4 linked regions of the Homo sapiens genome follow. The protein of the gene in region 2 interacts with the protein of the main gene of each other region in a pairwise test. Each region holds a gene or a part of one and is shown on either strand. Other genes may lie near its edges.

Region 1 (8,466 bases), on a different chromosome or scaffold from region 2:
CCTTGTTTTATACATAACCTTTAAATAAGCTTTGAATTAGAAAAAGATATTTACCATTTAAAAAAAAGTTTTTCTATAATTTTTAAATTGGAAATTACCCAGATACTTAATACTTATTAATAACCTGAGGTCCTAAATTATATGACGTTTGTTTACAAACACTTATTCCATTACCTTTACCTGATTAATTTATTTGTTTACCTGGATTATTAACAAAAACTGTGACAGTCATTATTGAAGTTATTTCCCTGTTAACCATTTTTATAGCTGTGAATTTCAGGTGTTTACTTCAATAATGAACTTATGATTAAATATAAGAGTATTTTTTCCAGTAACTCATGATTTAGCTGTTTTCATTAAACCAACCATATTCCATGTCTTATTTATCAAAAATTATACAAGCAAAGATCATTCTGTCTTGGGCTGGGTTTTATAGTTTTATAACCCTATGGCTAATCTTATAGTATTCTGAAGGAATAAGCATGAAGCTACTTGATCAATAAATGCAAACAAAAATACTAACAATTCTTAGAACATTTTAATTTTTTTTACCAATGATTTTAAAGACAGTTTATTTATTAAATATTTTACTTGTCACGTGAACTTGAAAAGCATTGATTAGTATTTTTTGATCAAGTATTTAAGTGCTTTTATTTTTACTTAAGCTAATTAGAGCTCTTTTACATATTTTTAGTAGTGACACATTGTGTACACAACACATAAATGCATAGCGTATTAGGCATGGCAATAGAAGTACATCTTATGTATTTGTAAGACCTCTTTTTCCCTTAGACTTTTAAATTCATGATAGCCTGTTTCATCACCCTGGGCAGTTGTCAGCTAAATAGTCCTACATTTGCATATTAAAGGAAACAACTCTTAGGTGAAAAATCAGATAGCAAAATTTACATCTCAAAGTACCAAGAGACAGTCTGGTTTGCTAGAGGGAAATTAAAATGGATTTAATTTGCCATTTAAACAAAATTATAGAAGTCTATTATAAAATCCTTTTAAATACACACACACACACACACACACACACACACACACACACACAGATCCTATAGCTTTTACTTCAGAACTTTAGCCATGAGATAAATACAAATTCCCCAGCTTGCAAAAAAAAAAAAAAAAAAAAAAAAAAAAACAAGAAAACAAAGAAAAAGAAAAATAGGTTAGATCCAAACAGTGGTTTTTAATTTCAGTACAAAAGTAAAAGCAGATTTAAAGCAGGCAGAAAATATAGAGAAGAAGAGAACTTAGGAACTCTATAGTGTACAGGTTGACCTTAGGGCTCTTTTCCTTAATGTAAATGTGCACAAGGATCATTATATTTCCATTTTACATAAGCTCTGGCAAGTAGACGCACCATAAAACCAACAGAGTGCCCGAAATGAGGTCATTCTCCTTGTTTTCTCCTCATTCTTAGATCATTTGTTTCCCACCTTTTTTTTTCTTAGAAGTAGGAACTGAGCTGTGGCCTAGGGTTTTTGTGTGGTGGATCAATGTGTGCTGCTTGTGGGCAGGACCCCACCATGTGTCACCACTGAGTTGTTTCCACCCTGTTACATGTCTCAGTTTCTCTCTCCAGAGGTCTATTACCTTTGAGAGGGCTCAAAATGATGGGTGATCAGTCCTTATATGCATTCCTGGACAAGCCATTTTTAAAATTAATTTTTGTTGGGGATTTCCCCATAGGGCTGCTGCATGTCACAGGATGTCAACCCCCCCCCAGACACTCCCACAAGGCCCCCAGTCACCCAGGAGCACGTTTTGGCTGGGAGGAGCAAATGCCTTTCTCTTTGGAGTTGAGAAAACTCAGTCTCTCATTTACCTATGAAAACAACAGTTCAATTCCTCACACAAATGCGCAGACAAGCCGAATCAAGATTAATTTTGGGAGAAAAAGCAATAAAGAAAACCCTTTAGAATGTGTCTCTGAACTAGAATTAGAATCCTTAAACAACAACTTCCTAGGAGAAAAACCAGCTCACACTAAACGAAGGACTGTCAACCAAAGGGCGATCTGGGGCTCAGGAGAACTTAACCAGTTCCATCGGGGGAGAAGCTAGAAGTCTGGGAGGCTTCAATGGGCCCCACTGGTATCTTCGCTCCGAGTTCAGGCAACTCCTTTGGGGTCCTGAGTCTTCTCTGAGGCCCCACGCTGGGTGCCAAATTATTGTGGAAGAGTCAAACTCTGTAAAATATTTGAAGAGATTTATTGTGAGCCAAATATGAGTGACCACAGCCAGTGACACAGCCTTCAGGAGGTCTTGAGAACATGTGCCCAAGGAGGTCGGGGTGCAGCTTGGTTTAATACATTCTGAGGAGGCATGAGACTTCAAGTTAAGTTCATTTAAGAAATAAATTTGTTTGATCCAGAAAGGCAGGAAAACTCAAAGAGGGGGAGGGTGGTTCTAGGGTATAGGTCAACTTAAACATTTTCTGGTTGACAATTGGTTGAGTTTGTCCAAAGACCTGGGATTAAAGAAAGGAATGTCTGGGTTAAGAGGTTGTGGAGACCAATGTGTTTTATCACGCAGATGAAGTATTCGGATAGGGTAGCAGGCTTCAGAGAGAAGAGGCTGTAAAATGTTTCTTATCAGACTTAAAGTCTGTGTTGATGTTAATGCAGGAGAGGGATAATGAGGCATGTTCGGCCTCCACTTCCCCTTATGGCCTGAACCAGTTTTTCAGGTTAAATTCTAAAAGTCCTGGCTGAGGAAGAAGTCCATTCGGATGATTTGGTGGTTGGGAACGGGGAGGTGCCTTATCATTTATTTTTTGGTTTAAAATATAATGATATATTTTACCAAGTCTTGTGAACCATCAGGCCTCCCTCAGGCCCGGACTGGGAATTGCCAATTTCGTTAGGTGTGACCGTAATACTATGAGAATGTTTAAAAAAATAGGCCTTACTGATTAAACATACTCGAGTATTTAAAGGAGAATTTATCCACTGGGATGCTTTAAAATTACTCTGGGAAAAAAGGGAAAACGAAAGGCATGTGTGGGGTGAAGCACAGACTTGTCGTTGTTGTTTTTAAAGCAAAAGGCGGGTCCCAAGGGAAGTTGGCTGTCGGTGGGTTCCCGTTCTCCGTACCTTTCTACCTTGACAGCTCCATAATAAAACCTGCAGCCGCATAGGCGCCTCTCCCGTAGCGCTCCCGCGGGGGCGCCAGTGGGGCCCCAGCTGCGAGGAGGGCCCGGGCTCGCGAGACTCGGTCCCCCACTTCCGTCCCCGCGATCCCCGGCTCCCAGCCCCCCGGGCCCCCGGCGGGGCTCTGCGCTGCCGGAGCTTGGGCGTCTGCTGCTGTCCCGGAGCGCCAAGTCGTCCGAGGTCCGGCCGCCCGGCCGGGGCGGGGCCAGGGAGGCCCGGCCTTCCCGCTTCCTGCCTGAGCCGCAGGCCCGCCCCTGCGTCCTCCGCCCGCCTCTTTCCCGCCGCCGCCTGGGAGGGGACCCGGTAAGCGCGGCCCTGTTCCGGGCGGGGTTGGGGCGGAAGGTGGGGTCAGCTGGGGCCCAAGGGGGGTCGGGGAGGCGCGCGGGAGAGGGCGCCCGGGAGTGGGTGCGCGGGAGGCGAGTGAGCCGGGCGCCGGGCCCTGGGGGCTCGGCGGGAGGGGGAGTCAGGTGGGGACCGGGATTTGGGGGACTCGGTGGGGGAAAGGCGCGCGGGAGATGAGGTAAACACGAGGGGTCGGAGGGGCGGCCTGGGGCGGGGTGGGGCCATGCCTGGGGTAGGCCACGCCTCGGGGAGGCCGGGAGAGAACCCAGGCGCTGGGGGTCGCGGGGGAGCCGGCCGGTCCTACCCTTAGGTGTCTGAGGCCGCTCCCCACACCGCTGCGGTGTGCATTCAGCGGCCCTGTCTCCTCCTTCCTGGCCTGCTCAGGGCACGGCTCCTGGTTGGATGTCACACGCGTGACTCCTGCAGCGCCCGCGCGCAGGGACCCCTCGCTGCCTCAGCCAGACCTCCCGCCAGCCTCTACCACAGGCTCAGCCCACTGTCCTGGGTGGGCTCGGTGCAAACCTCTGGTGAAGAAAACCTCCTGGGGGTGCCCAGCCGGGAGTCTGTCTCAGAGTCCCACACTCTCTCCATCCAGGAGAGCCGGTGGGATAGGTCTCTTTAAAATCCCGTTATTTATTTGTTTATTTTTTCCTCTTTCTTCCAGTTTTTTCCATATGACTTTAGTGATCAAATCCCACTTTTTTTTAGAAGGCTTTTTTTACACCAGTGGTTTTCAAACTGTGGTCCCAGGACCAGCAGCACTGCCTTTCCTGAGATCTGCTAGAAATGCGGGTTCCCCAGCCCCACCCTGACCTTCTAAATCCTAAACCTTGGGGGTGGGTCCCCATACTTGTCTTTAGCAGGTCCTCCTCGTGGTTCTGACCATTGATCTGAAACCTTAGGGCTTTGAGGAGTCTGAACTGGGGTTGAGGATGGGCCAGGTGCCCTGTGATGATAATGCATGACTCCATTTAATCTTCACAGCCCTACACAGTAGGTAGTATTACCCCATTTCACAGATTAGGCAACAGAGGTACAGAAAGTTTAATTTTTCCAAGGTCACAGACCTAGAAAGGGGAGGAGCTGGGATTCCAACCTTGGGTTCCGGCTCCAGAACATTCCCACTGAGGCGAGGTCCCCTGTGAAGGTGGGGAGGGGTGAAGCCCAGAGGTCCTGGCGGCCTCCCTGCCAGGCAGAAACCATTAGTTCCAGAATCACGACCAGCCAGGTGCGTGGTCAGCAGTGGCCCTGCCTGCCTGCCTTTGGGCGAGCCCTGGTCTGTGTGAGCTGCTGGGTCCAGGTCCCCGGGCAGGATGTGTTCGCACTGGGGTGCTGACGGGGCGCCTAGAGGCCTGGGTCCAAGGCCAACCTCACAGGGTGACACAGGGATGCTTCTGGGTGACAGAGTGTCCGTTTCCTCCTCAGTCTGATGGGGGCGGATACCCCCCAACCCCATGCTGGCAGCTGGGAGGGTGGGCAGCCTCACAGACTCAGGCGTGGCTCTGAACTGTGGCCCCAGGTGGTCCACAACCTGTCCTGCCCAGCCTAGCCCCTTTCAAGGCACAAGGGTCTCTGACCACTGCCCCATAGCAGGGTTTCTCGGCCTCCACACTACTGACATTTGGGGTGGGGCAGTTCTTTGTTTTGGGGGGCTGTCCTGTATCACCCCCTGTCGGGACAACCAAAACCATGTGCAGACATTGCCCAATGTCCTCTGTGGGGACCTTGGAGGCAATGCCTCCACTGGCATCTTCTGGCATCTTGGCTCCTCCCTGGGGCTCTGGGATTAGAGGTTTCCTGGCCCACAGCCCACTTTCCCACAGGAGCCTCCTCCAGCCTGTGCTTGGTTGTTCATCTGCACGAGCTGTCAGTGACACAGGGACATTGGAGCATGTTCTCCTTGCAAACACTCCAACATTCAGGTGGAGCTGAGGGGCCTTTGGCCATGTCCACAGCTGGGAGATCCCCCACCCTGCAAGGGGCACAGAGCAGGTGTGGTGCTGACACCAGCTGGGCCCTGCTCCCGGGTCACCCTGGCCAGGCCTTCCTCTGGCACCATGTGCAGGCACAGTGAGGGTGGACCAGGGCTGGGGCTCTCTAGGTACAGCTGCACACGTGTTCCCAGCATGAATCACGGATCAGGGCTGCGCCAGCACCTGCCGCTCTGGTGTTTGCTGTCACCAAGCACAGTGGCTGCGCACTCTTGGGTTAACCTCCTCAGGCACGCGTGTGAGTGACTCACCAAGACTGTGGCTGAGTGAGGATGTGTGGCCTGGAGTGGTCACTGCCCAGTTGCCTCTGGCAGAGGCAGACCCAGAGCCCTGTGGCTGTGTTCCAGGCCCTTCTCCCCACCCCTTGCCCTAGTGGTGGTGAGGTGAGGTGCATCACACCAGGTTCATTTATTTATATTAAAAAAATTTTATTGACACATAATAGATGTACATATTTTTGAGTTGCCTGTGATAATTTAACACGTTCATGTAACTTGTAAAGATCAAATCAGTGCAATATAGACATCCATCATTTTAGAGATTGGTCTTTTATTCCAGAAACATTTGAATTCTAGCTATTCCGAAATATAAAATAGATTATTGTAAACTATAGTCACTGTATTGATTCATCAAACACGATTTCTTATTTCTTCCATCAAACTGTGTATTTCTAGCCATTAACCATCCTCCCTTTTTCCCCCTGTCCCGCCACAGGCTTTGGTAACCATTGAACTTTCTACCTCCTTGAGATCCCCTCCTTCAGCGCTCACATATGAGTGAGGCCATGTGATGTTTGTCTTTCTGTCCACGGCTTATTTCACTGAATGTAATGACCTCCAGTTCCATCTATATTGTTGCAGATGACAGGATCTCATTCTTCTTTATGGCTGAATAGTACTCCATTGTGTATATGTACCGCATCTTCTTTATCCTTTCATCTGGTATGGAAACTTAGGTTGATCCATATCTTAGCTATTGTGAATAGTGCTGCAAGAAACATGGGGTACAGATATCTCTTCAATATCCTGGTTTCCTTTCTTTTGGATATGTACCCATTAGTGGGATTGCCGGATCATATGGTAGTTCTGTTTTTAGTTTGTTTTTTTTTTTCAGAGATGGAATCTCGCTCTGTTGCCCAGGCTAGAGTGCAGTGGCACAATCTCAGCTCACCACAACCTCCACCTCCTGGGTTCAAGTGACTCTCATGCCTCAGCCTCCCAAGTAGCTGGAACTACAGGCGTGTGTCACCACACCCAGCTAATTTTTTGTATTTTAGTAGAGATGGGGTTTTGGCATGTTGGCCAGGCTGGTCTCAAGCTCCTGGCCTCAAGTTATTCTCCCACCTTGGCCTCCCAAAGTGCTGGGATTACAGGCTTGAGCCACTGCATCTGGCTTGCTTTTAGTTTTTAAAGGAACTTCCATACTGTTCTCCATAGTGGCTGAACTAGTTTACATTCCCACTAACAGTGTACGAGGAACACTTTCTCCACATCCTTACCAGTGTCCATTATTCCCTGTCTTTTTTATAAAAGCCATTTAAAATGGGGTGGGATAATATCTCATTGTGGCTTTGACTTGCATTTCTCTCATGATTAGTGATGTTGAGTACTTTTTGCATATATGTGAGCCATTTATGTCTTCTTTTGAGAAATATCTATTCAGATCTTTTGGCCATATTTTAATTGGATTTTTTTTATATTGAGTTGTTTGAATTCCTGGTACTATATATTCTGGTTATTAATCCCTTGTGAGATGAGTGGTTTCAGATATTTTCTTCCATTCTGTGGGTTATTTTTTCACTTTGTTGTTTCCTTTGCTGTGCAGAAACTTTTTAGCTTGATGTAATCCCATTTGTCTATTTTTGCTTTGGTTGCCTGTGTTTTTGAGGTCTTACACAAAAAGTCTGCCCAGACCAATGTCCTGCAAAATTTCCCCAATATTTTCTACTAGTAGTTTCATGGTTTTAAATCATATAAGCCTTTAATCTGTTTTGATGTGATTTTTTAATATAGTGAGAAATAGGGGTCTAGTTTCATTCTTCTGTATATGGATATCCTGTTTTTCCAGTCCATCTATTGAGGAGACTGTCCTTTCCCCAGAGTATGTTCCTTGTGCATTTGTCAAAAATGAGTTGGCTATAAGTGTGTGGATTTATATCTAGGTTCTCTCTTCTGTCCATTGGCTTATGTGTCTGCCAGTACCATGCTGATTTGGTTACTACAGCTTTGTAGTATATTTTGAAGTCACTATGATGCTTCAAGCTTTATTCTTTTTGCTCAGGATTGCTTTGGCTATTTGGGGTCTATTGTAGTTACATATAAATTTTAGAATTGTTTTTTCTATTTCTGTGAAGAATGACATTGGTATTTTGGTAGTGATTGCATTGAATCTGTAAATTGCGTTGGGTAAAATTGTCATTTTCATTGAAATTCTTCCATTCCTCAAACATAATGTATCTTTCCATCGGCTTTCATTTTTATTTCCCTAACCTCTTCTCAGGTGGCTGTCTAGGCTGCCTTTGTGTTTCTCCAGCTGAGCTCTTGTTCCCATCCTGTGTCAGTTTCTCCATGGTTTTCTCTGTAGGAGTTCTTCATTCTTTTTGCACACTTATCCTTTGTCTCTTGTATTGGGTCCAACTATTTTCTCCTAGGCTTTTGCTTGCTTTTAAATTTTATTTAGAAGTTTTGTCCTACAGAATATTTAAACTTTGATGTAGCTAAATTAATCATTTTTCCCCTTTGGTTTTTGCTTTCTATTGTGTGTGTGTGTGTGTGTGTGTGTGTCCCTTACCCTTAAGGAATTTAAATCCCTGATCGTGTGTGGGTGTGTGTGTGTGTGTGTGTGTGTGTGTTTCCCTTACCTTAAGGAGTTTAAATCCCTGATTTAGGTTCAAATTTTTTTCTGGCTGTCCACTTCCCTGGTTGCTCAGGACATCCAAGCCCTGCCTTTCTGGCAGAGGGAGCTGGGAAAAGT
Region 2 (3,996 bases):
TCCCGGAAGCTGCGCTCCCACTCAGCCTGGTTGAAGAAGTCGTAGAAGTGGCAGCTGAAGGTAATGAGCACAAAGCCAAAGGCCAGGAAGCCAAAAATGCCTGTGGAGGACAGGGGCAGGACAGGACGTTACCAAGCCCAGTCCCGCAGCAGCAGTGGGGAGGAGAGAGTCTGCCCCACTGGGCCTCAAAGTTCACCCAGCTGGGGCTGGGGTGAACTCATGCTGGGCTCAGTCCAAGAACTGCTTTCTCTAAAATAAAATAAGAAGGGCACTTGAAGCAACTGTGGGAGGGACCACGTGGGACGTAGTGGGCAGGAGGAACCAGTCCCGGCATGAACTTGACTGAATTCTTCCCCCCGAGTAGACCCCCTTCTTTTGAGCTGCCACTACCACTACCACCTACACACACCCCTTGTCCTTGTCCCTATGGCTAACTTGTCCCACTGACTTACTGCATCCTGCCGGTCGCATAGCCCCAGGAGGGTGCAGTGTTGGGCTGGCCAGGACCTCAGACCGAAGTCCCCCGGGGCCACTCACCCAGGCGCAGCATGGTCTCGTTGATCTTGCTGGCAGCCTTCTCACTCAGCAGCCCGGGGTGGTTGCTCTTGATGGAGAACAGAGTCATGACTCCTGAACAGAAGGGGGACCTCAGACATTAGCAGGGGTGAGGCTGCCCTGCTGGGAAGGATGGGTGAGTGGGAGGAGGGTCCTAAGGCTCTGGAGTCCCAAGTCTGATTACCCCTGTGCTAAATGAAAACCTGGGGAGCTAGAGACACTGGAGAAATGGTGAGAAGACCAGGGCAGAGCCTAGACAGACACTTGAGAAGAGGGAGCCTCGGTCGTGGCCCAGCTGCCCCTGAAGAAGGGGGCAGATCAAAGCTGTTCTGATGGGAAAGACATAAAACAGACTCAAGAACAGCGCTATCCATATAATTTTTTTTTTGAGATGGAACCCTGTCGCCCAGGCTGGAGTGCAATGGCGTGATCTCGGCTCATTGTAAACTCCGCCTCCCAGGTTCAAGCAATTCTCCTGCCTCAGCCTCCCAAGCAGCTGGGATCACAGGCACCTACCATCACGCCGGCTAATTTTTGTATTTTTGTAAAGATGGGGTTTCACCATGTTGGCCAGGATGGTCTTGAACTCCTGAACTCAGGTGATCTGCCCACCTCGGCCTCCCAAAGTGCTGGGATTACAGGTGTGAGCCACCATGCCGGCCTTCCCATAGAAATATGTGAGCCACATACATATGGCAAATTTCTAGTGGCCACTTAAAAAAAGTTAAAAGAAACAAGCAAAACTAATATCAATATATTTTACAAACCTAATATATTCAAAATAAAATCATTTCAACATGTAATCCATGTAACAAATTATTAATGAGATATTTTACATTTTTTTCCCACTAAGTTTTTTTTTTAATACAGTGTGTATTTCACATTTTACAACACATCTCAATTTGGACTTGTTTCTTTTTGTTGTTGTCTTGTTTTCTTTGGAGACAGGGTCTCACTCTGTCACTCAGGCTGGAGTGCAGTGGCAAGATCATGGCTCACTGCAGCCTCAACCTCCTGGGCTCAAGCAAGCCTCCCACCTCAGCCTCTCACATAGCTAGGACCACAGGCATGTGCCACCCTGCCCAGGCAACTTTTGTATTTTTTGTAGAGATGGGGTTTCACTATGTTGTTCAGGCTGGTCTCGAACTCTGAGCTCAAGTGATCCGTCCGTCTCAGCCTCCCAAAGTACTGGGATTACAGGAGTGAGCCGCCGCACCCAGGCTGGACTAGTTCAACACATGTGGCTAGTGATTACCATACTAGGACAGCATGATAACGAAGCACAAATCAGAGGGCCAGACACTATGCCAAAAAGAGGGGAAAGAGGTGACTGAACAGAAGGCTGGCAGTTCAGGGTGAGGAAACTGAGGTTTACAAAGAAAACCCAACAACAATGAGCTAAATAGATGCTGAGGCTTACTATGGGATGGCAGCATGAGACAGGAAAGTTAGGGACCACTAATTCCACGCATGCTGTGAGAGCTGTGTGTGCCGGGGACAGAAAGAAGATGAAAACCAAGCTCCAGAAGATTGACAGTACATATCGAATTAATGTGCACACAGATAACCAAACGACCTAGGTTGGTCCAAGTGGGCAGAGTAGGTTACTCAGGGTGTTCATCACACAAGTGCACCGGCCAGGAGCTGACTGGGGCTGGATCCTGACCCAACTCCACCTAACAAGCTGTGAGGCTGGGCACTGTGGCTCATGCCTGTAATCTCCGCACTTTGGGAGGCTGAGGTGGTGGATCACTTTAGGTCAGGAGTTCAAGACCAGCCTGGCTAACATGGTGAAACCCCGTCTCTACTAAAAATACAAAAATTAGCCAGACGTGGTGGTGCATGCCTGTAATTTTAGCTATGGGGGAGGGTGAGGCAGGAGAATCACTTGAACCCAGGAGGCGAAGGTTGCAGTGAGCCAAGATTGTGCCACTGCACTCCAGCCTGGGCAACAGAGCTAGACTCTGTCTCAAAAACAAAAACAAACAAAAAAAACAAGCTGTGAGCCCTGGGCCAAGGCCCTGGAGAGAGGGATGGATTTTTCTGGCCAGTACAAAGGTGCTGTCCCGCAGCAAGTGCTCACGGTGTTTCGTCTGCCTAGAGGGTCACCTTCTACTGTGTGAAGGCCCTATAGGAGCTAGCTGGGGTTTCAGCATGGGGGCAGCCGTGCTGGCAGCTCCCAGTACTGGCAGCAAGTGCCCAGTATATTTTGTTGCCCAACTGGTCCTGGCCTGGTCTTCACTCACCTCGGATGAGGAAGTAGCCTCCCACGATGAGCACCAGGCCGATTGGGGCCAGCACGAAGCCCGCACGGTATCGGTAGTTCTTGTAGCCCACAAAACAAATCCCACTCACAGAGTCCCCATCCACCTGCAGCAGGAAGGGGTGGGACAGAAGGTGGGTTACTGGCCCCCTCCCTCAAACTCACCCCATCCAGGTCTCCCGTTCCTACCAGTCACTATACCTGCGCCACAGCAAGGATTGCCACAGTGAGGACAAAGGGGAGTGACCAGGTGAGCAGGTGGAAGTAGGAGGTCTTGCCCGAGAGAGGCTGGTAGGTGGTGCCCAGGGCTTTGAAGGAAGTGTGCCAGGCATAGGTGAGGACCACAAACCAAACCACACCAGCCATCAGGGCGTAGTACACGATGACAAAGATGATGACGCAGGACAGAGTCTCATTGGAGCTGTGCAGAGAGGTGAGGTGTCACTTGAGGCGGTCACTCTGTACTCCCTCTACCTGGTCTCCCCACCCTGTGCCCAGACCCTCAGCTGCTGAGGTCTGGAGGTTCCCAGAAGTCAGGGCTTGGAGACAGGACCCAGGTCAGATCTGAGGAGGCTCTAGGAGCCGCCCCTTTGAGCAGATACAAACCATGAAGGTCCTGATTCTGAAACTAAGATCCTAACACTGGAGATCTTGCATGCAGTATGCAGTAGGGCAGAGCCAGATCCTGCCCTGGATCTCGGTTTTACACGCACCTGCTCCCTTTGGGGTAAACGCACACTTCAGCCTTCCTCCCTGTACCTTCACCTCTGGGTCCCCAAGACACCTACGTGGGCTCCCCAAGCCTCATGGTGCCATCTGCACGGCAGACGATCTCTCGGCGGGCACCATCCATGAACTGGGCCAGCCAGCCAATGCTGCCCACAAAGAAGCACGCATTGACGTAGAAGAGAATAACAGCAGGGTAGCGATTCGAGTTCCGCCAGTCAGCCACGAATGTGGCCTAGAAGAGAGAAGTGGGCCATTCTGTGAGGTTAGGGTTATTCTGCTGACACAGACACCCTTAACTGAGCCCCAGACCCTTCTGATCATGACCCTTCCCTGGGGACCCCCACCAAGACCTCTTTGCCCCCCTTCCCTCTGGCTCTCTTCCCACGTTCCAGGCTGAGGGCCCCCCGGGCCTGCCCTCCCGCGGCTGACCAGGGTGAAGAGCGTGCAGA
Region 3 (7,683 bases), on a different chromosome or scaffold from region 2:
GCTATGTTATCCAGGCTGGCCTCAAAATCCTGGGCTCAAACAATCTTCTGGCCTCAGCCTCCCAAAGAGCTGGGATTACAGGCACAAGCTGCTCTGCCTGGCCAAGATACAGTGAACTATCTCTCCCTCCCTCCCTCCCTCCCCTTCCTTCCTTCCTTCCTTCCTTCTTCCTTCCTTCCTTCCTCCCTCCCTCCCTCCCTCCCCTGCTTCCTTCATTTTTTTGAGACAGTCTCACTCCATCACCAGGATTGGAGTGCAGTGGCTCTATCTCACCTCACTGCAACCTCCACATCCCGGGTTCAATCGATTCTCTTCCCTCAGCCTCCCGAGTAGCTGGGATTACAGGCGAGTGCCACCACACCTGGCTAATTTGTTTTTTGTATTTTTAGTAGAGACAGGGTTTTGCCATGTTGGCCAGGCTTGTCTCAAACTCCTGCCCTCAAGTGATCTGCCTGCCTCGGCCTCCCAAAGTGCTGAGATTACAGGTGTGAGCCACCACGCCGGCTGTGATTTTTCTATTCTATTTCTTAATATATGTAGTATTCAAAATTTCCTAGTTTTGTCAGAGGAGTAACAATAGTTTTTTTGTTACTTGTGCCTGTAATCCCAGCTCTTTGGGAGGCTGAGGCTGGAGAATCGTTAGAGCCCAGGAGTTTGAGGCCAGCCTGGGTAACATAGCAAGACCACATCACTGCCCACAAATATTTTTTTAAAAAATTACTGTACAAAACAAAAGTTTTTTTTAAATTATGGAGTTTTTATTTATTTATTTTTTTAGCACGGGCAACCAAAAGTTATTATTATTTTTTTTAACATGACACCCTCGTAACCCTGTCAAGTCTTTGCAGCAATGACCTCTGATGCATCTTTCCCAGACCAGCATTCCTCATGATCTGCCATCTCTTACCTCATTTCCTGGGCTCCTGGGTCTGTCTGCATTGCTGTTCTGCAAGGAGGCATTCTGCTCCAGGGGATATTCAAGGTCAGGGGCTCATTTACAGATTTTCCATTGTCCTGTGAATCTGTGACAATTCAGAAATGGAGCAAGTTAGAAGATACAGATCAACCCTTTTCAGGCAATTCTCTGTAAGCCTAGGACAGTAGCAGCAGTCATGCTGGAAGGTGGAGGAAGCAGAGTGGGAAGGGGTGTCCCTCCCCTCACTCCCTGAAGGGGAGTTTGTCACACCTCATGCTGTGTCAGATGGCCTGGGATGCCATCCCTATGAAAATTATAATTATGGGCCGAGTGCGGTGGCTCACACCTGTAATCCCATCGCTTTGGGAGGCCAAGGTGGGCAGATCACCTGAGGTCAGGATAGCCAACATGGTGAAACCCCGTCTCTACTAAAAATACAAAAATTAGCCGGGTGTGGTAGCGGATGCCTGTGATCCAAGCTACCTGGGAGGCTGAGGCAGATGAATTGCTTGAACCTGGCAGGCGGAGGTTGCAGTGAGCTGAGATCGTGCCACTGCACTCCAGCCTGGGTGAAAAAAAAAAAAGAAAATTATAATGATGATTTAAGCAACTTCATATACATTTACATATACATAAACATACATACGTAGTCAGTGGAAAAAAAGATATTGGAAATAAGAATACAAACCTGGCTAATATTTACAGGGCAATAAAACCATAACGATTGGTGTTATTTCTACTGGTCAAAAATCACTGGCAACTTGCCAATTTTTTTAGCATCTAACAATTCCCAAGTCCTAATCAATATGAAATAATAAGTCCAGTTAGCCTCCCCCAGAAAGTCTGCTCACCCGGGGGTGGGATTTTTAGGCAATGATCTGCTGTGATTTTGAAGGGGTACTCATTTTGCAGATGAAACAGAGAATGTCCCACACCTTCCAGACCCAAATCACACATCGTGACTCCAGATCATGAGCTTCTTTGGTGGCTGTGGAGTGACCCAGTAGCCCATTTTGTCTGCTCCTTCTCTTCCCCAGCCCCCACCCCGTGCTCTTTCTCACCATGTAGGTCAAGCACGACATTTTCTCCTTGGATTCTTGGATCAGGAAGTACTGAGCAGTCAAAAGAATTCGCTCCAAGGAGGTGACATGAAGGAGTCACTGTAAAAATAAAACTGTAAGGCTAGGCGCGGTGGCTCACGCCTGTAATCCCAGCACTTTGGGAGGCTGAGGTGGGCGGATCACTTGAGGTCAGGAGTTCGAAACCAGCCTGGCCAACATGGTGAAACCCTGTCTCTACTAAAAATACAAAAATTAGCCGGGCATGGTGGCAGACACCTGTGGTCCCGGTTACTTGGGAGGCTGAGGCAGGAGAATCGCTTGAACCCAGGAAGTGGAGGCTGCAGTGAGCTGAGTGAGCTTGCACCACTGCACTCCAGCCTGGGTGACAGAGCGAGACTCCATCTCAAACAAACAAACAACCCCTGCAAATCTGATGAAAACATTTATGGCTGGACATAAAGGCCACCTTTGGGGATGGCACTGTTCTGTCTATCTGGTGTCAGCATCCTTGGCTCAGCTTGGGGAGGTCACAAACTCGAGGCTCTTTCCCCAGCGGCCCTCTTGCCCTCCCCAGCTTCATCCCAGACACAGCCCTACACCTTCCTTTTCTTGCAACCCTGAAAGACTTCCCCGACCCCCAACCTTGGCAGCTGCAGCTGCTTTTCTGTCTGCTTACAGTGCCCTACCCCTGCCCTGTCCAACAGGGTGGCCGCTAGCCACGTGTGACTATTATGCACTTGAAATGTGGCTGAGGAGGGGAATTTCTCATTTTATTTAATGTAATTTACATTTAAAAGTACAAACTCATATTGATTCAGTTGTTGGGAAACTTTTAAGGGTATTTGGATCAATTTGGGTATGTAAATCCACTTTTCTGACTGTACATTTTATGCAATCTAATTCCAGATCAAGTATTTCCAATGAAAATTTGGCATGCGAATTGAGAGGGGCTGCAAATATAAAATACTCAACAGATTTCAAAGACTTCATGCAAAAAAAAGGAATGTAAACTATTTCATCGATATTTTTTATGTTGATTATTAACTACAGGATAAAATGGTAGCTTTTGCATCTGCTGGGTTAATAAAATGCATTGTTAAAATTAATTTCACCCATTTATTTGTACTTTTTAAATGTGGCCACTGGAAAATTTAAAATGATGTATGTGGCTTGCAGCATATTTCTGTTGGATGGCGCTACTGTAACCCCCTTCTCCATCTACACAGGCTTTGGAGCCAGAAGGATCTGAACTCTAGCTCAGTCTGTACCACACAATAGCTGTGTGATTCTGGGTAAGTGGCTCAATCTCTGTGGGCCTCAGTTGTTTATTTTTTGATCTGTAAAATGGGTATGGTAAGAATACCCTTGAAATGCCTGCCTAGCAAACTAGCACAGCCACCGGGTACCTGCATGAAATCAACCAAGCCTGCTCCCACTTTCTCCCCAGCCATGTCCTTATCCTTTTTTTTTTTTTTTTTTTTTTTTTTTTTTGAGATGGAGTCTTACTCTTTTGCCCAGGCTGGAGTGCAGTGGCATGGTTTTGGTTCACTGCAACCTCTGCCTCCTGGGTTCAAGTGATTTTCCTGCCTCAGCTTCCTGGGTAGCTGGCATTACAAGCATGCACCACCATGCCCGGCTAATTTTTGTATTTTTAGTAGAGATGGAGTTTCACCATGTTGGCCAGGCTGGTCTCGAACCCCTGACCTCAGATGATCTACCCACCTCGGCCTCCCAAAGTGCTGGGATTATAGGTGTGAGCCACTGCACCCGGCCGTCCTTACCCATTTGTCAAGACTCATCTGAAATATCATCTTCTTTGGGAAGCCCTTTCCTAACCCCAGCAGAAGGGTCTAATGCTTTGCCTTTATCTCTCCTGTAAACTTTCACACATGGCTTGCATTAAAATGACATCATTACAATATTGTGGGTTCCTCAAAGGCAGAGACCCCAGCTTCCTCGTGTGTGAGAATGTGCTTTTAACTTTTAGTATACGGGAAATTTCAAACATATGGAAAAGTTGAGCTTCCACGACGATAGTATTTCAATCATTGTATTTTTCTTGCTTAACTCAGTGCTTGATACATGATTTTGTTAGTGTTTGTGGTGGATGGCAACAGCCACAGATTCTACCACCGTGGAGTGGTGAAGTCAATTTCCCCAACCCCTTTGGTCTGGGCTGGCCCTGTGGGCTGGTTTGACTGACAGAACATGGTGCAAGGGACTATGCAAGGTCTGAGTCTCCGTCTAGGCCTCAAGATGCCAGGCAGCTTCTGCTCTTGCTCTCTCAGAACCCGACTGCCATATGCATAAGCCTGGGCCAGCCTGCTGGGGGATGAGAGACCACGTGGAGCAGAGGCAGGCAGTCCCAGTTCACAGACCACCAGAGAGATGAGTGAGGCTGTCCTCCACCTTCCAAACCCAGAAGAGCCACCAGCTGACTGCAGAGGTTAGGTAAACTGGCCCAGACACAGCAACCACTAAACCAACCCCCAGAATCATGAGAAATAATAAATATTGTTGTTTTAAGTCTCTATATTTTGAGGGGAGTTTAACGTGTGGCAAACAGCTACCCAATACAGGGTTTAATGAATGTTTTTGAATGCACTGATGAAGTCTCTGGATTTAGCAGGGGTTGCCACTCTGGCACACTCAGGGTAGCATATATAGTCTGGTGGCAGCTGCTGTGCCTCCCGGGCTGGGAAACTGTCACACATTCTTCACCCCCAGCAGGCTGCCTGTCAACCACAGGAGCACGTCACAAGGAAAAGAGTCTGTAGCACCAACACCCCATTTGTAAAGTTTTCTGAACTTTATTCTGCTCAATGCATATATTTTGAGCAGATAAAATGTGCTAGGCACTGGTCTAAAAGATTAAGAAGTCTTGCTGCAAATCTATTCCCAAGGTTTTAATCTCATTTATTTTCAGAGCAGCAGAAGCTTTGGCTATGGCAGTCACAGTGAGAGAACAGGACAGAACCTCATCACCGAGACAATTCATGTTCTCAGATGACCCGTAATGTGGATGGCTCTAAGTCTCCCTCCTAGAATGCATGTACAGCGAGGGGTGTTTTGCTGAGTTCTAGAACAAGAAATCTCTTTTCAGTAGAAGCCAGTCTAATTGTCTAATTTGGGTCAACCCTTTCTCCTAAGTACACACGTCATCATAGTGGAGGAATTTGGGTTCTTTAGATAATGGTTTTAAAATGCACTACCCTGTTGAAACTGTCCTTGGTACTTTTCAATGCCACTTATCCTTTCTCATTTAATGAGGACCTTTCAGCACTGATGACTCCAGTTGGATGTAAGGGAACAGCCGTGACAGCTGTCCCTGATACTGACCTGCCAGGCAGCTGGCGTTCCGTTCGGGGTTGTCTCTGGCCTTGGCTTTGCTTTTGCGTCTTATGGAGCGATTGAAGATGGAATTTCTCTTAATTGGGATGTGGCAATGAGGCTCTTTGTCTTGGATATCCTGGTCAGCTTGAGAAGTCTCCTCTTTTTCTGGGAGTAACTCAGGTTTCACCTTGGCTGGTTCATTATCAGTGTTCCATTGATCACTTGCTGATTTCCTCCGGGTCTTTTCCAAATCTTCAGATTCCCTGGTCTCCATGGAAATAGAGCCAGATGTTTCTCAGCAGAACGACTGGAGGTCAATGACTTTCCCAAGCTTCACTGGTTTGAGTGCTTTAGAATAGATAGAAAACAATTTTCAGTTAGTCATCAGGCTAAGTATTCTATTCAGACTGTGGAACTCCACTCCCATTCGAATTTGATGAAACGTGGGATAATCTGCACATCCTGGTATCCACGTCTTCGCCACTGAAAATTACAGCTTAATCTCTGCAATTTGGAGGCATTCACGTATCATTTTATAATTGCCGTTTGTTTACATTATTCCTAAGAGGCACTTTTAGGGGGAAATGTTTAAAGTGGCTTGCAAAACTACATTCAAATAAATACTTCTTAAATAATTCCAGAGAAAAAGGGTGGCAGAAATAGTGAGGGAATTCCAGGAAAGCATTGAGAGGGACCGTAAATGTCTAGACAGGAAAAGAAAGTCTCAGAAGATGAGAAAGGGTTGTGGGCTGGTGCAAGGTCTCACAATGGTAAGTTTAGACATGGGCAAGGTTGATCCCCAAGGCGACAAACCTTGCCATCAGCTGGCAACCAAGTCTAGTGGGTGCATTAGTGGCCTTTCTGATGGAATGATGTATGGCCGTGGTGGAAGAATAAGGTCCCCCCATCCCATGGCCACCCCACCATGGGCTGGAGAAACAGAATGGTTACCTCCCTCTGGGGTGACCATATAGCATATCATCTGAACGAGGACACTTTTCATAGGAAAAGGGGGATACAACAGGAACAAACCCCACCTCCCTCCCCACAAAGACCTCCTAGGGTAGGGGTGCTCAGGGCGAGAGACTATGTGGACCCTCTTAGTGGGTCTAAGCTGGTGGGACAGCGTGTTAGACAGAGAGGCCGAGCTAGGAATTCTTCTCAGCTCTCCACTCATCTGAGGGCTTGAAACCTGGGGTCACATGGATTCTATGGAGGTTTTCAGGGTACAAGGCTGTGTATGAGCATATACATTTTTCTGGCCTATCGGTCCAGAGATTCCATCATACCTTCAAAATGGTCAGAGACTTGGCCAGGCACCGGCCTATAATCCTAGCACTTTGGGAGGCCGAGGCGAGCAGATCACCTGAGGCCAGGAGTTCAAGATCAGCCTGGCCAACATGGAGAAACCCTGTCTCTACTAAAAATATAAAAATTAGCTGGGTTTGGTGGCACATGCCTGTAGTCCCAGCTTCTCGGGAGGCTGAGGCAGGAGAATCGCTTGAATCTGGGAGGTGGAGGTTGCCATAAGCAGAGATCTTGCCACTGCACTCCAGCCTGGGCAACAGAGCCAGACTCCATCTCAAAAAAACCCTTCCAGTCCTCTTCTGTTGCTCCCTTCCACAAACATCCAGCTCAACCAGTGTTCTACGATTCATCAGGAGTGTTTGTCTGTGTCTTCCTTTGTGAAATGGGGAGCATGGAGGGCTGGGTTTCAGATGCCTCCTTTCCCACCGCACCACTCCTCTTCCTCCACAGTCCCTCTGAGTTCCCAAACACCTTCTTCTACACCCACCAGCCAGCCCCACACTACTGATCTCAGGGCAGGTGGTCTGGCAGAATAGTCAGGAGGTTGGGTTTCCCCTACCCCAGGCCGAGAATGCCTTCGTTTACCTAAGATAGGAATTAGGACTTTCTGGGTAGGGGGATTTGAAGACTGAAGGCCACTCTGGTTCCTAGAACCAGCTACTTCCGACACAGGTTTGTATCAGAAGGTTTGCCCTAGGATGGCACCTCCTTCCCACCTGCTTGCAGGGCTGATCCTGTTCTATTAACCACCTTCCCTGTAAATTGTCAGCCAGGCAGAAATGAGCATTAACGTACTCAGAGGTTGCCTCAGAGCAGCTGGGCCACGTGCAGGGGCACAACCTGAGCTCATGGGGACCTGGGGAGTGCCTTCCCCACCACGGTCGTCTGGGGGACCCAGCAATACCTGACCCTTCTGGTCCCGGCCTCAGTTTCCTGATCCATGAAGTTGGAGTGTGCACTATGGGGTCGGTGAAGCCCCTTCCAACTAGAAAGCAACGCTGCTATTTCAGGTGGCCAGAGAGGATTGTGCGGTGGCTGGGAGGACACACTTAGGATGGACCATTA
Region 4 (7,683 bases), on a different chromosome or scaffold from region 2:
ACTCTTTTGTTGAAATGTTTCATTGATATCGATCCCTCCTTACACAGGATGATGATGATAATGATAACGATGATGGTGGCTAACATGTATACAGTCCTTAGGACGTATCGAGCATTTTCCTGAGGAAACTATATTACCTTATTTAATCCTCAAACAATCCAATGAGGTGTTATTATCCCCATTTTAGAGATAAGAAAACTGAGGCACAGAAAAGTTATATAACTTGCCTATAAAAAAGTTATACTATTAATGAGTAGCAGAGCTAATCCATACTCTTACCAGCCACCCTACACAGTCTCTGTACATGAGACTGCCTCTCTCTAAGAGCACCTGCACAAATAGCAGCTAGGCTAATACTTTGAGTAGTCTTTTGGCTTCAAATTGAAAGATTGGTCTATCCAATCTTCAGTTCAAGGTAAATATGGCATCAAAAAAATCACCCAGAAAGAAAGGGATTAATCTGCTCAGCACGATGCGGTCCCCTGCTCAGGTGGTCAGACCCTGTGCTCACGCCAGGTCACTACCACTAACACGCCTAACCACTGGGGGCACCACTGCTCCTGCCACCCCAAGAGTAAAGAAGAGTAGAATGCTTCCCCCTTGAGTCAGTAAAGATACAGTTATAGATTGTCAAAGAGACACTCTACTCTGCAGCTTAAGGAAATCTGAACAATAAAGACCCCTCAACCCACAGCAATTAGTTAATCAACCAAGTGCAAATTTATACCTAATTTTTTTAACAGCCTTGTCTGGCTCTCAAGAATGGATGCTTGACAGTGGGCTAAAATGTATATCTTGAGGTAGCTTTTTAGTTTGTACTGGTCCTAGGTCTGATGGGATCTCTACCCCAATCAAGATTTCCTCACAATCTTATCTCCAGGATGCCACCTCCCACATTCCCCTCTAGCCCACAGCTACATTTCTCTAAAACCACTCTAACCCACTCTCCATTTCCACATATTGCCCCTAAAGATGTTTTCTCTAAACTAGGGTTTCTCATTCTCTGCACTATTAACATTTTGAGCAAGATAATTCTTTGTTGCCAGGGGCTGTGCTTTGTAGGATATTTAGAATCATCTTTGGCTTCTACACATTAGATATCAGGAGCATGTATCCCTCCCCATCCCCTACCCCCAACTGTAACAACCAAAAATGCCTCCAGATAGTATAGCGTCTGAGTCTAGGGTAGTAGTTGAAAACCACTACCCTAACTAATAGTTCTCGAGGTGTGATCCCCAGACCAGTACATCTGCATCCCCAGGGACTTGCTAGAAATGTCAGTTCTCAGGCCCTAGCCCAGATCTACTGAATCAGAATTTCCAGGGGAAGGGCCTGATAACCTGTGAACTAACTACCTTTCCAGGTGGTTCTGACGGATGTTAAAGTTTGAGAACTATTGATCTAAACATAAGGCCATCCTTAGGGAATAAAAGCAACTCTGCTTCTTTTCTAAGTCTCCATGGCTCCGGCCCCCTAGGTCCAACCCTTGCTTTGATCCACTTCTATTTGTGCTGTTTGATTAATCTATAATCTCTTTTGCCCCTAACCTATTGTTAAGACTGCTCTATCCTCTTCAGAAAACATTGGCTTCCCCACTGGCATTTTAGGCTGGTCCCACTGGAAGCCCTATGGCCTCAAAAGCAGGAACCATCTTTCTCTAGACACAAAGTCAGAAAGGGACCTTCCAAGTCTTCCCACCCCAATGCTCAGGTGTCCCTCTATGTCCCTAACCATCTCTCTGTTCTCTCTCTCTCTCTTTTTGTTTAGAGCTGGGGGTCTCACTATATTGCCCAGGCTGGTCTTGAACTCCTGGGCTCCAGTGATCCTCTGCCTTGGCCTCCCAAGGTGCTGGGGACTACAGGTGTGAGCCACTAGATCCAGCCAAATCCCTGTTTTCTGTCAGCCTCCTCTAGCTCCCTGCTATAAGACAGAAGCAACGATTGGCAAGTCCTGGGCTCAGGGCACCAACAAGTCTTTCTGGCTTTGGTAGCCAGTTCCAATACTTTCCCAGGTTTTATGGATGACTCACCTCTTGGGTACTCTACAGGAAAGTGATCTTCCAAAATTTTTTCATTGTATTTTTCAACTAACATACCTTAAAACATAGAGTCCATTTAGAATGTCCCAAAACAGTGTGTATCATCAGAGTCCATGTGGCAGCAGATCTTTCATCACAACACACCACCAGAGTCAACTTCCTAAATCTTATTTCTCCTTTGCTCAGCAATTGCCAGTAGCTAAACAGTGTTAGCAGATAAAAGTACAAACTTTTTAGTCAGGCTTCATGGTTTTCCATGGGAAGTGATGAGCAGAGCAGTTTGGAGCCAGATTTAACTAGGATTCAATTCCAGCTGGACTGCTGAGTAGCTGCATGACCTGAGACAAGTCATTAAACCACTCTGAGTCTCATTTTCCTGGTCTACAAAATGTAGATAAGTCCACATCAGAGTTTTGCTGTTAGAATCCCTGAAATCATGAATCTAAGTACCACACAAATGCCACTGTTAGTAAAACTTTTTAAATCAAGCTATTTTGGGGCTTTACAACCATTAACTCACCCCTAACATGCTCTCCAAAGCAGGTACACACTTGGTGTAATAAGCAGACACATAGGTGGCCGTATCGAGCTTACCCAAAATTCCTGTACTCTTTACAATGTAGTGCTGAGCAACAAAGAAGCCTCTTCCCCTGTGCCCACACCCACACTCACTTCTGCCCCTCAGCTGCAGGGCTGCCCCAGCCCTCTCAAATCAGAGAATGCGCCTCCTCGCTCCAAGTCTGTCATTAACCAGCTGTCTGGGGCTAAATGATTTCAAAAGCCCCTTCTCCACATAAAATTCTAAAAAAAGAATCATTAAAAAAAGCAACAGGATCCAAGCTAATTGCATATCAATCATGAGTGAATATTAAGCAACTCTAAAACACTAACATAAATCACCAAGAAAATGAAATGCAATTCTGCCCAGACACAGTGCTCCTGTAAAGGTGTGCTTGAGTATACAAGCATCCATATTATCATTAATGCCGGTTCCTCCTGACTTCTCACCAACTGCTCCTCGTCTCCATGGTAACAGCCCTTCCACTCATCAGGAACCTACTGAACATACAACTCCATCGTTTTTTTTTTTTTCTCTCTCTACCCAAGGAAGTCAGAGCAAAGGTAGGATCCACAGGAAACATAATGCAGACAAGTTCAGGGTGGGCACAGCCCCCTCTTCTCCTTTATATCCAAATTCCGCACCCTCTCCCTGCCACCCTTTCCCCTGCAAGGCCCCCTCAGTCCTCTCCACCCTCCCAGGTGCCAGACTGCAAGTCCCCACACTCTCACCATGTTGGAAATGCTGCGGGTATTGGCAGGATTCAGCATGACAATCTCAGTTGTGATGTGGCCCTCCACCGCCTCAGTCATCTCATCCACTGTGCAGTTGATAGAAGGGTCGTAGATCTTGAACCAATTGTCAGCATACCACCCAATGAGGAACCAGACGTACTTCTTCCCAAAGAGACGCTCCTTGTACACCTGAATACAGAGGAGAATGGCTGAGTTTTTGTTTGCTCATTTGTTTGTTTTTGTCTTATCTCACTTGATACTATTTAGCCTCTTGGGAATCAGGGAAGAGCAGTAGAACTAAAAAGAGAAATCTACAAGTCTTGGGGATAGTAGGAAAGGCTGACAATTCTTCCTTCTAAGTTTCTCCCCAGCCCCTGTATTTCTGAGTGGCCTTTTCCAGCCAGTCAGGACAGATGGAATTCATGGGCTTCTCAGGAAACACAAAGCAGTAGAAAAATGAGATCTGAAGAAAGTATCATGTGTGTGCAGACAAGGGATGCAGTCAGAGCCAACAGACAGAGACATCCTATGAATCGTCACCTCAGATCATATGCTATCAACTCAGGCACAGATGCCAAGAGGAGGCCCCACAAGAAAACCAAGGGAAACTCCCACCCAGTGCCCCTCCCTCTTCAGATCCAACTCCACCTCACAAAAAACTTTCCGGGCTTCAGTCTCATAGAAAAGTCCCACGATGATTCGGGCATCCTGGCGCTACAACAGAGAAAGAAACAGCTCCTGAGGGATGCCCGGGAATGCCTGAGGGGCTAAGCCAGATGTCTTCACAGCTTTGATTTCCCATCCCAAAGTGCTTAGTGCAGGGTAACGCTCAACGTATAGTGAATAAACGTCAACTGGAAGATGGAGCTAAACTTCCCCAGGAGATGCTATTGCCTCAGAGAATCAAAACCTGCCCCCGCCTGGCTTTCCTCTCCAACCAGTCACTGTCCCCCAGCTTGGTCCCTCCGTAAACAGAGCCCACCACTCCCAGCCATCTGACCTTCAGGTTTTTGACGGGCACAGCTGGATCTGAGAAGAAACTCTGGCGGAAAGTAATCTCAATTCCAGCCTCCTTCACTCGTTCCTCCAGGTCGTCCAGAGTCTTGGGTGGGAATAAAAAACAAGTTGGAAAAACACGGGGTGCATGAGGGAATAAAGACCAGAGAGGTTAACTGGGGATTTCAGAGCAATACTCAGATAGAGCAAAGAAGCAGCCATTCTGAACCTTCCTTCAACAGCTTCTGTCCCTGAAGTGAGGAGTTCGGGAAGGCATCTGGTCTTAGGATGTGGATTCCAAGTGGGAAGGTGAATGGTGAGCCCCTGCTGAGGCTCTGTGTGGGGGAAGCCACTCCATTCACCCACTCCTACCACTGAAGGCAAAGATGGGGTAAAGAAACATAAAGGAACCAGGAAAAGACAAGGCAAGGACTGGGACAGACAGCATGATGTCAACCTCAAGAGGCAAATGGGCAGACAGACAAAGGATCAGAGAAGAATGGTCTGAATCAGAGTGAAAGTGGGGGAGGATTAAAGGGCCACTGAACACAGTGGATAGAAGACCCAAAGAATAGAATAAAAGGGAGGGAGCAGACTGCCTTCTTCAGATGTAGAGCCTGTATTTCCTCTCTACCTCCCCAAATCTCCCTCTTCCCCCTCAACCTCTCCTTGTCTGTCGGCTTCTCTCTCTTAGTACCAACTACCAGATCCATGCAGCTGCCTTTCTGCCCCTCTCTCTCCTCTCCCTCATTCCTCTCTCTCTCTCTCTTTCCTCTCCCTCTCTCCTCTGTAATCCACTGGCTCCATCCCCTCTGTTCCCATTCACACCCACCCACCACCCCCCTTGAAAGCCTCTGGAATCTGCTGCCTTCCTGGATTCCTATCTCATCTTCGCTCCCATCTCTTGCCCCCACTTTGGATTGAACCTACTTTAACAGAACTGAGTCATTCTGGGTCTATATGTCTGGGGAACAGGGCATCAAACAGGGGAAAAAAATCATAAAATCATAAAGACAGAGAGGATCCCAAAAACTCAACTCATTCTTTCCCCTGGCTACAGAAAGAACTGCACTTAATCCACATGGAATGCGTTCTCTTTCAATGAAGAATCAAGTTCTTGCCCCTAAAAGTGACTCTCACGTCACATCTCCTGGTGCTGGAATTTGAGCTTATGTCCCTTTACCCCTTGCCCAACCCCTCCTCACCGAAGTGAAGACCTCAGTGGTCTGCTGGATGGTAGCAATCTTCTTCCAGCCCCACTTTTCAAAGAGTTTCACGCGGGTAGGGTTGTGGAGTGTGGCTGATGGGTGCGTTCGGAAGAAAGTGGGGAAACGCTGCCGGTTTGACAGGGCTGGTGAGCTGGAGCCATAGGAAAGCTGTGGGGCAGGGAGAGTGAGTGCAACAGGGTCTGTTCACTGAGGACACCAAGAGTGGCCAAGAGTTCCTTTAACCCTCTTCCTGCCTTTGGGTTTCTCTTCCTTACTCTCTCCAAACCTCCCCACCTCTGGTCTGCCTAAGGAAAAGAGATTCTCAAAGGCCCACACACCCCTCACAACCGGGATGCTCTTTCACTGATCTAATTTCAATTCCTTCTGAAGAAGGAGGTCAGCTGCAGCACTGTCAGGCCACTGTTGCTAGGAGGCTGCCTAGCTCAGGTCTGCAGAGGACTCTGAATCTTAGTAGCAGGTCCTCCACACTCCTTTTCAATACAAACCCACAATCGCCATCGTCCCTTCAGTAGAGCTCAAAAGGGAATGACCCCATCTTCTGACCCCCATAGCCCTGCTTACCACAATGAGGTTCCACATCCTAGCAGCCTCAGCCACCAGCGTGGAGACAGAGCTGCAGCCAGGCATAAGGATGATCTTGATAGGGTCGTTGTAGAGCAGCTCATATAGGTACTTGGTGGCTTGGCCTGGATCACACTGAAAGACAAGAGGAGATGAGGGCAAGCTCTCCTGGGGCCCCTCCCCTGTCTGCAATTCCTGCTCTTATCTTTCTCGAACAAATTAGTTCCTTTCTCAATTACTCACTTTCATCATTAATTACCGTTTTCTTCTCCTTTCTGGCATCTCTTCCTGTCAAGTGCCTTTTTTCTCCTCTTTCATTAAACTTCCTTCTCTGTCTTCCATCTGGAGCCTTACCCATCACCTCTCCTGCACACCCCTCCTTTGGTATTAATGAACATACCACCTTACCTCCTTTCAGCTCACCCTCAGACATCCCCCTTCCCTCTGTCACCAAGCCCTTTACCCCATGTTTCTATGCTTCAAACACCAGTGGGTGGAAGAAGTCAGTAGGAATACGGTAAACTCTTTCCACATCCCCAGATAGCTTGCTCAAAGCCATATTATGAAAATTCCTTCCTCACCTCTGCAAACCCCTTCTCCCCACCTTCCATTTGTTTCCTCCCTCTTCTCTTTTCAGAGCTAGTGATAAGTAAAGAGAGAACAGGAACAAGACCAGTAGGGGGTCCCGCTCAGTGATCCATCCCTCCTGCTGGGCGCTGACATTTGACAGGTCCATTAGAAAAAAAGACACTGGGGGGTGGAAGTAGGGAAGAATGTAGGATGAGGAAAGAACAGAGAGAATGAATAGAATGGAACTCTCAAGAAACCAGACAATTTGAGAGGTGCCTTAAAGAGAGGCTTGGAGCTAGGGAAAGTAAACAAGCAGAAAGCTGGAGAAGAAAGGAAGCTTGGGAGGAGGGGAAATGGGGGAGGAAGAGCCAGCCTTGGGTCTCCCACTGCCTGTTCCCCTCCCACTGATATATGACATTTCAGAAGCTGCTGGAACCCCAATGCATGTGAAGACGAAATGGCAGCCAGTGGGGAGCCAGGGCAGAGGGGACACAGACAGGGGGCTCAGGGGACTAAGGAGGGTGAAATGTTGCCAGGAGGGGAGGATAAGTAGAAAGGAAATAAAGAAAGCACTCTGGAGCCTGCTTACCTCCCACTGAGGCCTGACATTTGGGACACGGTGGGAAGTTGGAGAAGGGGGAGCCAGGGGAAGCTGTTGGAATCTGAAGAACCAGCAGTCACTGAGAATTCTCTGTTGCCCACCCTACCCTCACTCTGGCCAAGGGCAGTGCTCAACAACATTGGAAGGTTTTCTCTTTATGCCTCCCACTAGGGCAACTTTGTAAATCTTTACCATTCTCAGGACCCACCTTCCTGCACTCTCCCCACATCTATTACTCCAGATCCTGCTCCCAGCTTCTCCCACAGCCCCTCAGTGCCCCTCCACTTCTCTAAAGACAGGGTTAATAGGAACAATGAGGACATACAAGAACATATAAGATACATATCAACAGGGCAAGGCATGCCCCCCATTTTGTTTCCTGATTTCTTATCTAC

The links.
Region 1: the proteins of SMO (region 2) and SLC41A3 interact in a two-hybrid assay, tested with the Homo sapiens proteins (one large-scale study listed by BioGRID and IntAct).
Region 3: the proteins of SMO (region 2) and NGEF interact in a two-hybrid assay, tested with the Homo sapiens proteins (one large-scale study listed by BioGRID and IntAct).
Region 4: the proteins of SMO (region 2) and GABBR1 interact in a two-hybrid assay, tested with the Homo sapiens proteins (one large-scale study listed by BioGRID and IntAct).

What each region holds. Positions count from the first base shown.
Region 1 is NC_000003.12:126,079,090-126,087,555, reverse strand, and holds the start of SLC41A3 (solute carrier family 41 member 3), read left to right. Parts: upstream 1-3,431; 5' UTR 3,432-3,463; exon of another isoform or gene 3,464-3,627; intron 3,628-8,466. UniProt on the Homo sapiens protein: Na(+)/Mg(2+) ion exchanger that acts as a predominant Mg(2+) efflux system at the mitochondrial inner membrane.
Region 2 is NC_000007.14:129,205,393-129,209,388, reverse strand, and holds part of SMO (protein smoothened precursor), read right to left. Parts: coding exon 3,977-3,996; intron 3,780-3,976; coding exon 3,607-3,779; intron 3,240-3,606; coding exon 3,020-3,239; intron 2,926-3,019; coding exon 2,802-2,925; intron 631-2,801; coding exon 538-630; intron 101-537; coding exon 1-100. UniProt on the Homo sapiens protein: G protein-coupled receptor which associates with the patched protein (PTCH) to transduce hedgehog protein signaling. Binding of sonic hedgehog (SHH) to its receptor patched prevents inhibition of smoothened (SMO) by patched.
Region 3 is NC_000002.12:232,969,307-232,976,989, forward strand, and holds part of NGEF (ephexin-1), read right to left. Parts: intron 5,659-7,683; 5' UTR 5,585-5,658; coding exon 5,317-5,584; intron 1,023-5,316; coding exon 908-1,022; intron 1-907. UniProt on the Homo sapiens protein: Acts as a guanine nucleotide exchange factor (GEF) which differentially activates the GTPases RHOA, RAC1 and CDC42. Plays a role in axon guidance regulating ephrin-induced growth cone collapse and dendritic spine morphogenesis.
Region 4 is NC_000006.12:29,617,773-29,625,455, forward strand, and holds part of GABBR1 (gamma-aminobutyric acid type B receptor subunit 1 isoform a precursor), read right to left. Parts: intron 6,253-7,683; coding exon 6,118-6,252; intron 5,704-6,117; coding exon 5,533-5,703; intron 4,434-5,532; coding exon 4,332-4,433; intron 4,046-4,331; coding exon 3,980-4,045; intron 3,521-3,979; coding exon 3,329-3,520; intron 1-3,328.